3 linked regions of the Homo sapiens genome follow. The protein of the gene in region 1 purifies or fractionates together with the protein of each later gene. This does not show direct contact. Each region holds a gene or a part of one and is shown on either strand. Other genes may lie near its edges. The genes, in order: ORAI3, CRACR2A and MARCHF8.

Region 1 (3,522 bases):
AAAAAAAAAAGAGTGCTTATACTAAACACTCAGGGAGGGCTGGGTGTGGTGGCTCATGCCTGTAATCCCAGCACTTCGGGAGGCCAGACAGGTGGATCACCTGAGGTCAGAAGTTTGAGACCAGCTTGGCCAACATGGCGAAACCCCGTCTCTAATAAAAATATAAAAATTAGCCGGGTGTGGCGGCACACACTTGTAATCCCAGCTACTCTGGTGGCTGAGGCAGGAGAATTGCTTGAACTTGGGAGACGGAGGTTACAGTGAGCTGAGATCGCACCACTGCACTCCAGCCTGGGCAACACAAGACTCCGTCTCTAAATAAATAAATACTCAGTGGAAGAGATAGAGACTCTGAACTCAGGGACAAGAGTTCAAAGCCTGTAGCCTTGGAATAACTCTCCCCATTCAGAAGCTGTTGGCCCTTGTTAGCATCTGACAGGGTTACACCTGAAACCCACTCCCCTCCCAGGTCCTGTCCACCCAAACTTGCCACCACCCGGCTCTTGGGAACAAGTAAAGTTATCCTAAGAAGGCCTGCCCTGCATCCCCTTCACAGCAACAGGGACATCTGTGAAACACGATTTATTATATAAAACAAGGTGCATCCAAATTCAGTGTCAGAAGAGCTTTGTATTTCAAGGGCTAAGGACTGGACCTTCTCCCTTAAAACCTCCTTACCCAACCCTTGCTAAGGACTCAGGCCTGGGGCAGAGGCTGTCAGTCTCTAAAGACCCCAGCCCTGGACCAGGACGGGGAGAACAAGTTTGGTGCATAGCGTGGGGCTAGGGCAGTGGGTCAGGCACCATCCCTTCTGCAAGTGGCCACAGGTCACCACAGTGGGGGAAGGTGGGGAGCTTGAACCTCCAAAGATAGGTTCATTGTAGGAAAAGCTAGACCAATGCCTTGGGTAGAAACACCCAAATCCCTCTACAACAACTAAAGCAAGAATGTGGAACCCATCGAAATCTTCCCCCAAAATGCCAACCATAAAATAGATTCTACAGAAATAAAGAAAGGAATCCCAGCACTTTGGGAGGCCGAGGCGGGAGGTTCACTTGAGCCCAGGAGTTTGAGACCAGCCTGGGAACAGCGAAACCCCGTCTCTACAAAAAAATTAGTCGGGTGTGGCAGCACACACCTGTAGTACCAGCTACTCACTACCTGGGAGGCTGTGGTGGGAGCATCTTTTGAGCCTGGAAGGTCGAGGCTACAGTGAGCTGTGACTGTATCACTACACTCCAGCCTGGGAAACAGACTGTCTCAAAAAAAAAAAAAAATTAAACCAACAATTGGCTGCCTTCTGACCTTCACATCCTGTATAGGAATGGAAATGGTGGCTAAAGTCAGCACTGAAGGTCCCACAAGCTCTCCCTGCCTCCCCTCTATCTACTGCATGATCCTTCAACTGAGGCCAGCCCAGGTGCAGAGTAGCTTGCAAAACCCAAGGGACAGACTGATGGGGAAAATCCCTGGGAATGTGGGAGCTGCCCCAAGGCCCAGCCCAGAGGACCCTGCGGGCAGGAATCTGAACTCTGCCTGAGAGTGGCCACTGGAAGTGGCTCCAGCCAGGGGATGGGGGGATGAGGTCTGTAGGCCCCTGCGGCCTCTTACAGACCCCGGAGGGAGGCAGTGCTTGCAGTGAGCGGTGGCTAACACCAGTCTCACACAGCCTGCAGCTCCCCCTGCAGGCGATTCAGTTCCTCTAGTTCCTGCTTGTAGCGGTCTGTCTTGTGTGCCACCAAGGAGCGGTAGAAATGCAGGGCAAAGGCCACAAACACGAGCCCCACGGGTACCATGATGGCTGTGGAGGCCATGGCTGCTTGCCAGCCTGGCCCATGGGCCCCACCACCACCACAGGCTTGCCGGGGTGGGCAGGCTGGCTCAGCTTGGGACGGTGCTGCAGACGCAGAGGACCGTGGGAGATTGGAAGCTGGACTAAGGGAGGTAGCCACTGGTGCCAGAGTCCCGGGCACCCGGGATGTGGGCACCATGGGGGTCGGTGTGTCCAAGGGAGCCCCAATGGGCACAAACTTGACCCAACCAACCAGGACAACTTCAGCAAGGAAGAGAAAGGTGCCCAGGGCAGTGGAGAAGCCCCAGGCCAGCTCCACGTAGCGGTGCAGTCTCTGGTGTGGCGACTGGTGGACAGAGTTGAGGTTGTGGATGTTGCTCACAGCTTCAATGTGGGGCAGCAGACACGTGGAGACCATGAGTGCAAAGAGGTGCACAGCCACCAGCACGGTGGTGCAGGCACTGAAGGCCACCAGCAGGCCTGGTGGGTACTCGTGGTCACTCTCCAGCTGCACCTCCACCATGGCCACCTGCAGGGACAAGAGGGGATGTACTGATCTCCCCATAACCTCAACTGTAGAGATTTTTTCCGCCTATCGGGATACATCACTGATACATATCCCTAGGACCTAGAACTGTGCCTGGCAGAAACCAGAGACATTCAGTCTCTGTTGAGTAAACGAATGGACAGCTTTGCAAAGGCTCTGTTCTGTTCTGGTTTCCCCACCTCCCTATCAAGAGGGCTGGATGGCCGGGCGCGGCGGTTCATGCCTATAATCCCAGCACTTTGGGAGGCCAAAGTGTGTGGATCACCTGAGGTCAGGAGTTTGAGACCAACCTGGCCAACATGGCGAAACCCCGTCTCTACTAAAAGTACAAAAATTAGCCGGGCATCGTGGCACATGCCTGTAATCCCTGCTACTTGAGAGGCTGAGGCAGGAGAACTGCTTGAACCCAGGAGGCAGAAGTTTGAGTGAGCCGAGATCATGTGACTGCACTCCAGCCTGGGCAACAGAGCAAGACTCTGTCTCAAAAAAAAATTAAAAATAAAAATAAAAAAAAGGGCTGGATGACATGCTTCTAACAGGTTTACTGCATAGGGATCAAACAGCAGATTCTGGAGCTGGGCTGCCTGGGATCATTCTCTGCTCTAGCTGTGTAATCTTGAGCAAGTCAGTTCTCTGTGTGCCTCAATTTCCTATCTGGAAATAGAGATTGATAACAGCACCTCCCTGCCTTATAGGGTTGGTATAAACATTAAATGAAATATACATGAAATGGGCTGGGAGTGGTGGCTCACGCCTTTCATCCCAACACTTTGGGAGGCCGAGTTGGGCGGATCACCTGAGGTCAGGAGTTCAAGACCAGCCTGGCCAACATGGTGAAACCCTGTCTCTACTAAAAATATAAAAATTAGCCGGGCGTGGTGGTGTGCGCCTGTAATCCCGGCTACTCAGGAGCTTGGGAGGCTAAGGCAGGAGAATTGCTTGAACCCAGGAGGCAGAGGTTGCAGTGAGCCGAGATCGCACCACTGCACTCCAGCCTGGGTGACAGTGTGGGACTCTGTCTCAAAAAAAAAAAAAAAAGAAAGATAAGAAAGAAAAGAAAGAAAGAAAAAGAAAGAGGAAAGGAAAGGAAAAGGAAAAGGAAGAAAAAGAAAAAGAACAGTGCCAGGCACAGAGTAAGCACTAGGTATGTGTTTGCTGTTCTTGCTATAGTGAATGCTAAAGT
Region 2 (3,651 bases), on another chromosome or scaffold:
GCTATTATGTTTGAAATTAAGCCTCAATGTTTCCTTAATCTGTGCATTCGTTTTTACTGCCATTTAATAGGGGAAAAAAATTCTTATTTAACAAATGAGAAAGTTAAGGCTCAGAGAATCAAAAAGAACATTCAACACCATAAGCACTGAATTATGAGAACTCTTTAGTATATGGGTCCTCACTTCTCCAACCTTTTCCTCTAGATTCTTATTTCCAATCAAGTCTCTGCTACTTAGTATCTTATTAACTGGAACCCTCTAAAAATGGTATCTATTGGTCAGATGGTAACTTGTGTTTGCAATGATGACTCAAAGGCGCTACAAGATCTTACAGTGTCTTCTGACCCATCAAAAATAGATTAAATTCTGGACACTGCAGTTGATGTCCTAAGTGGATTGTACATATTCCAACTACTTGAAAGTGAGAAAGCCACTGATGGCATATATGGAACCCTGTGGCCCCCTATTAGCTAGAGCGTTCACTAATGGGAACACCCCCTCCTCTGACCGTGCTGTGCCACGGGATACTTGTGCGAAGAGCTTTTCACGGAAAGGGAAGAAAGGAGGAGGAAGCAGGGAAATGGGCCAAGCGGCTTGCTGTTTAGAGCACATGGGAGAGAGATATTTGTAGATTTATGTGTGAGGAATGATTAAGGCTTGTGGGATTTCTTGACATGGAAACTCTGAAAATATGAGCATCAGACTTGAAATCCCAGGGCAGAATTCTACCCCAGGTTTTGGTATTATTTGGAATGGGCACTGGCTTCTGTTTCCTCGCTTGCAGAGGGGATGATGGATACTGAATGACCCAATAGGATGGGGTAGGGAATGGGTCATAAGCCCAACATCTGGGTCCTATGCACCATAAACAGCAATGGTGCCTCTTGCGTCCTGGGAAAAGAAAGGGCAGGTTTCTTCTTTTTTTTTTTTTTTGGGAGGCCGAGGTGGGTGGATCATGAGGTCAGGAGTTCAAGACCAGCCTGGCCAAGATGGTGAAACCCTGTCTCTACTAAAAATACAAAATTTAGCCAGGTGTGGTGGTGGGCACCTGTAGTCCCAGCTACTTGGGAGGCTGAGGCAGAGAATTGCTTCAACCTGGGAGGCGGAGCTTGCAGTGAGCCAAGATTGTGCCACTGCACTCCAGCCTCAGTGACAGAGAGAGACTCTGTCAAAAAAAAAAAAAAAAAAAAAAAAAAAAAAAAACCAAAGCAATTCCTGGATATAAAAATAAAGGAGCTTAGAAGGAGCAGAAAAAAAAAATTTAAAAGCAAAGCACTCAGCAGGAGCTGCGGTTTCTGTTCTTTGTATTGTTCCTCTCTTACACAGCCACTCTGGACAACTGGCTTCCCTGCAGGGACCCTGGCCTGCCACCGATAAAGGAGAAACAGACTCATCTCCAAATATTTGGCAAAAATAAATGAGAATACCCATAAGACCAGGGAGTGTGCTAACTATCACAGTCAGTCACCATCACCCTGGCCCAAGGTCATCAGTCTCTGGCACAGGGGCAGGGAGAGGAGCTGGTATTGGGGTAGGTGTCTCATGGTCCTCTCTGACTTTGACCCCAAAAGTCTGGAACTATCTGTCTAAACTTTACACCTTTCTCATACCTAACTAGGTTTTCAGCCTGCATACCACTCAGCACAAGATGTTCAAAATTACCTCCTAGATGAAGCAACACCTCCTTCAAGCCCCTAGGGCTTTGGTGAACAGGTCTCAGGTCTACTCAAACTCTGTTGTCTTGAGACTGTGAGAGATGTTGGTAAAAATCCCATCAGCATGACAGGTTGGAGTGAAGTCATCTTAGCTCCTTCATCAGGCACACAATCTCTCTTTAGGAGATGTGGGTTCTGCCCTAGCTCTGTCACCATCTCTCCATGTGACTCATCTGAGTCTCTCCTCTTTTCTGTGTCTCTCTGTTCCAAAGCCAGGTTCTGTTCTATGACCCTCTAACAGAGAGCCTTCCCTCCACCTTCAGTTATTTCAGCTGCCTTTCTGTGAACTTGAGCTTGTTGGAAGACAGACTTGTTGAAATTCAAAAGATCACCCATCTCTGACTTTAAATAACAAGAGCTGTCAACTTGGAGCAGTGGATTGGCATTCAGCTCAGAATGTGCAGCTGCTGGGTTTGGTTGGTTGTTGCCTATGTGCATGTGTGTGTGTGTGTGTGCGTGCGTTTTAATATCTATTTGCTAGGAGGCATGAAAAAGCACTTAGCTGGGATAGTGCTGCTATTTCTCTGGAGCTAGAGCAAAAATTTTTTCAGCACATTAAAGCATGCAGTTATGCTAAGAAAAAAAATGCCTGCAAAATTATATCTTGGGGGTTTCCATATTTATCCATCCCCTGGACTATGAGTCAAAACAAGATTTATTTGTGTGGTTCATTTTAAACTGCCAGCACTTCAAGCTCAACTTGGAACGTGGAGAAAAAAAAATCAAACTGCTATTTTTTGCACCATGCTGTACATTGTCACCAATGACAAAGATCGCAGAATGAGGTTTAGCTAGCAGCCCAGGAAGGGAGAGGGAAGTGGGCCAGGACCCCTTGAGCTGAAGAACTGTTCTGCTTTGAGAGAGAAGCAAGAAGGACTGAAAAGTAAATGAACACCTGCTTTTCAGGAGCAGATTTCAGCCATGGACCACAGGACAAGAGAGAAGCAGTGCAGTGTGGCAAAGCCCTCGCTTCTAGATCGGGTGGTGCTGCTGACAAGTGTGGGCGCCTTTGGGAAAGTCACTTCCTCTTTTTGGATCATAGTTTTTCTTACTTATAAAACAAGAGGTTGCATTAGATTAATCTCCACGTTTTTTTCCAGCTCGGAAACACTGGTCTATTCGGCTTAACTCCGCCAATTCTATTTCACTTCCTCGACTCACATGCCCAGGAATCTAGTGCCATCAGAACGACAAGAGGCTCTAAACAAGAAGCTCAGCATCCCAGGACTGCAGACACTGGGGGCCAGCAATCCGGCTCTGGGGGAAATACCAGCCCATACAGGCTTGTACAGGCTGGCGTTCTAATTTCTATTTTCTCTACCCGACACAGGCCCCAGAGTCTTCTGATGTCCAGTTTGTCCCATGGCCACACGTGGGGCCTTAGAGCCTGACTAGTTTCTTTTCCAGATTGGAATGGTTAAACCAATTCTACCCAATTGAGATAAGAAATTGGGGGTGGGTTGGAAATGCCGAGTTGGCCGAAAGACTGCCTGCGGTGACTTCCTATAAGGCACTCAGGAGAATCGGCACAGAGGGCATCTGCTGGGCCTCTTCTGCAGAAGGCCTGCAGGCAAGGTAAAGTTGCCTAGACTGGGTGAAATAGCAGAACAAGGGCAAGGCCACAGTCTTCCCATCTCATCAAGCAGTGCTGGTGCTCTCTTGCACCAAAGGATTTTGGTTCCCTCTGGGCTGGAAGGACCCTCCAGAATCTCCTCATCCACACACATTCCTGCTCCGTCTTGGCCTCCCAGAGAGATAGTCAAATGCCATCATACACTGTAGAAATTTAGGGGCCAGGAGGGAGCATTTGGTCTGCTGCCTTGTTGAATGATTGGCCAAAGTTTCATGGCCAGGAAGTGATCAAGATGGGATAGTAAGAACTTCCTTTCAGGGAACTCCACTACCTCCCCCGAGCATCTGTTCCCACCCCACACAA
Region 3 (3,651 bases), on another chromosome or scaffold:
TCTTACTTATCACCTTTCAGGAATCCTGGGATACAGATCATTTCTTTCAGGATCCCTTTATCAAGGAGGACAGGGCAGAAAATTGAAAAATGTATTTTTTGGACAATCTTGCAATTTGGGTTCCAGACATGTAGAAGAATTCCAGATAATTCATGTAAAGACTCCACCTTCAAGGAGGGGGAGCACAACTCCCCATTCTTTAAAGTGGGCTATGCCTAGTGACTTCCTTCCAAAGAATGAAGTACAAAAGGGGAGAAAAAGAGTAACTTTATAGTGGAGAGACCTGATAGTCACTATATCAGCCAGGTGGTCAAGAAAATCAGTCATAAATCATGTTGATAGTATACTCGATCTGTTGTGATGAACTGGTACATTGTATCTGTGGACTTCCATCCCAAAACCTATAACCCTAGTCTAGTCATGAGAAAAATATCAGACAATTCCCATAGAAGGACATTCCACAAAATACCTGATCAGTATTCTTCAAAACTGTCAAGGTAATCTAAAACAAGGGAAGTCTGAGAAACTGTCATAGCCAAGAGGAGCCTAAGGAGATACAACAACAAAATGTAATATGCTACATCCTAGAGATGAGATCCTGGAACACAAAAAGGACATTAGTTAAAAAGTAGGGAAATCTGAATAAAGCATGGACTTTAAAACTATAATGTATTCATATTAGTTCACTAACTATGATGAATGCAGCACACTATTTTAAGATGTTAATAATATGAGAAACTGGAAGCTTGGTTCAAGATGGCTAACTAGATGCAGCTAGTACATGCCTCTTCCATGGAAAGCTCCAAAACGGCGAGTAGATATTCACCCTTCAAATAGGTCATCTAAAACAGAACACTGGAATTCAACTGAAAAGCAACAGGAATCACTGATCACAAAGGAGAAGGAAGCAAGGCACGTGCTCAGCCAGGATTGCTGAGAGATGAAAGAAGCTTCTAGATGCTGGGAAAGGGTAGATGAGAGACTCCCAGGGCTCCACATTCCCACCATGGACTTTTGCAACGCTAGCTGTGGGAGACCCCCTTGACCCTCGCAGGTCTCCAGCCTAATAGAGTGAGTTGCCTGGAGATTGACAGAGGCATTGCTCAAACTCACATGGGAGTACACAGGCTTCCGAGCCCTGAGCAGCTGCTGCTACCAGCCAACAAGCCAGGCTGAAGAGAGGAGGCCAGGCACTTTTACACAACCACTGTGCTTCTTGTACAGTCTGCAGAATAGTGAGCCAAATAAAATCTCTTATTTATAAATTACCCAGCCTTGGGCATTCCTTTATAGCACAAGAGGGGACTTCAACACCCCACTGACAGCACTAGACAGACCACTGAGACAGAAAAAAAAAGAAAAAAAAAACCCCACTGGATTTAAATTGGACTGTAGAACAAATAGACCTAACAGATGTTTATATAACAAGCTACCCAACAATCACAGAATATACATTCTTCTTATTAGCATGTGGAACATTTTCCAAGACAGACCTTATCTTAAGGAATGAAGCAAGTCTCAATAAATTTTTAAAAAACTGAAATCATTTCAAGTTGTCTTCTCAGACTACAGTGGAAAAAACCTAAAGTCAATTCCAAGAAGGACTCTCAAATCTATACAAATACATGGAAATTAACCTGCTCTTGAATGATTTTTGGGTCAGTGATGAAATTAAGATGGAAGTTTAAAAATTTTTTAAACAAAAGTAGAGACACAACATACCAAAACCTCTGGAATACAGCAAAAGCTTATAGTGTTGACTGTAAATGGATTCAAGAAAGAAAAGTTTATAGCGTTAAATGCCTAAATCGAAAAAAATAGAAAGACCACAAGTTAACCTGACATAGTACCTCAAGGAACTAGAAAAACAAGAACAAACCAAACCCAGAAGAAAAGAAATGATGAAGAGCAGAACTAAATGAAATCCAGATCATAAAAACCCAAAAGATAAAGAAACAAAAAGTTGCTTCACTGAAAAGATAAACAAAATTGACAGCCTACTAGCTACATTAACCAAGAAGAAAGAAAATTCAAATAAGCACAATCAGAAATGAAAAAGACACTACAAATGATACCACAGAAATACAAAAGATCATCAGAGTCTACCATGAACATCTCTACACTAACGAACTAGAAAACCTAGATGAAACAGGTAAATTCCTAAAGACACACAACCTCTCAAGAATGAACTAAGAAAGAGAAAGCCTGAAGAGACCAATAACCAGTAAGACTTAACCAGTAATAAAAATAAAAAAAAATCTCCCAACAACAAAAAACCCCAGAAGCAGATGAATTCACAGCCAAATTCTACCAGACATAGAAGAATAGGTACCAATCCTATTGACAACACTGTTCCCCCAAATTGAAGAAAATCCTCTCTAACTGAAGCCAGTATCACCCTAACACCAAATCCAAGCAAGGACACACAAAAACAGAAACAGAATCAATCAGTACCCCTAATGAACACAGATGCAAAAACGCTCAAGAAAATACTAGCAAACCAAATCCAACAGCACATCAAAAAACATGGTACACCACAATCAAGTGGGTTATATTCCAGGGATACAAGTAGGGTTTAACATACAAAAATCAATAAATGTGATCTGCCACATAAACAGGATTAAAAACAAAAACCATATTATCTCGATAGATACAGAAAAAGCATTTGATAAAATTCAGCATTCTTTCATGATAAAAACCACTCAACAACTTGGTGTAGTAGGAACATACCTCAAAATAATAAAACCCATATACAAGAATCCCACAGCCAACATCATACTGAATGGGGAAAGGTTGAAAGCATTCCCCTTAAGAAATGGAAGAAGACAAGGATCCCCACTCTTACCACTCCTACTCAACACAGTACTAAAAGTCCTATCGGGCCAGAGCAGTAATGCAATAGAAAGAAAGAAAAGACATCTAAATTGTAAAAGAGGAAGTTAAACTATCTCTGTTTGCTGATATAATTTTATACCTGGAAAACCCTAAGACTCCTCCAAAACACTCGTAAATTTGATAAATTAATTCAGTAGAGTTTCAGGATACAAAATCGACCTACAAAATCAGTAGTATTTCTTTTGTTTAGTTGGGGTTTGTTTCTTTGTTTGTTTTTGAAACGGTCTCACTCTGTTACCCAGGCTGGAGCACAGTGGCGCAGTCATAGCTTAGCGCAGCCTCGACCTCCTGGGCTCAAGTGATCCTCCCACCTCAGCATCCCAAGTCGCTGGGACTTACAGGCACGTGCCACCACACCCAGCTAATTTTTGTATTTTTTGTTGTGAGGAGGAATCAGTAGCATTTCTATACAACAATGATATAATCAAGCTGAGAACCAAATCAAGAACCAAACCAAGAAGTCAATCCCATTTACAATAGCTACAAAAAAATAATAAAATACTCAGAAATACACTCAACCAAGGATGTGAAAGATCTCTACAAGAAAAACTACAAAACGCTGACGAAAGAAATCACATATGACACAAACATGATCATGGGTTAGAAGAATCAGTATCATTAAAATGACCATACTACTCAAAGAAATCTGCAGATGCAATTCCTATAAAAATACTAACATTGTTTTTCACAATATTAGAAAAAACAATCCTAAAATACCCAAGGAACCAGAAAAGAGCCTGAATGGCCAAAGCAATG

The links.
Region 2: the proteins of ORAI3 (region 1) and CRACR2A purify together in Homo sapiens (co-immunoprecipitation; one study listed by IntAct). This does not show direct contact.
Region 3: the proteins of ORAI3 (region 1) and MARCHF8 purify together in Homo sapiens (affinity purification with western blotting; one study listed by BioGRID). This does not show direct contact.

What each region holds. Positions count from the first base shown.
Region 1 is NC_000016.10:30,951,984-30,955,505, reverse strand, and holds the end of ORAI3 (protein orai-3), read right to left. Parts: intron 2,322-3,522; coding exon 1,662-2,321; 3' UTR 568-1,661; downstream 1-567.
Region 2 is NC_000012.12:3,620,479-3,624,129, forward strand, and holds part of CRACR2A (EF-hand calcium-binding domain-containing protein 4B), read right to left. Parts: intron 1-3,651.
Region 3 is NC_000010.11:45,525,368-45,529,018, forward strand, and holds part of MARCHF8 (E3 ubiquitin-protein ligase MARCHF8), read right to left. Parts: intron 1-3,651. UniProt on the Homo sapiens protein: E3 ubiquitin-protein ligase that plays several important roles in innate immunity and adaptive immunity.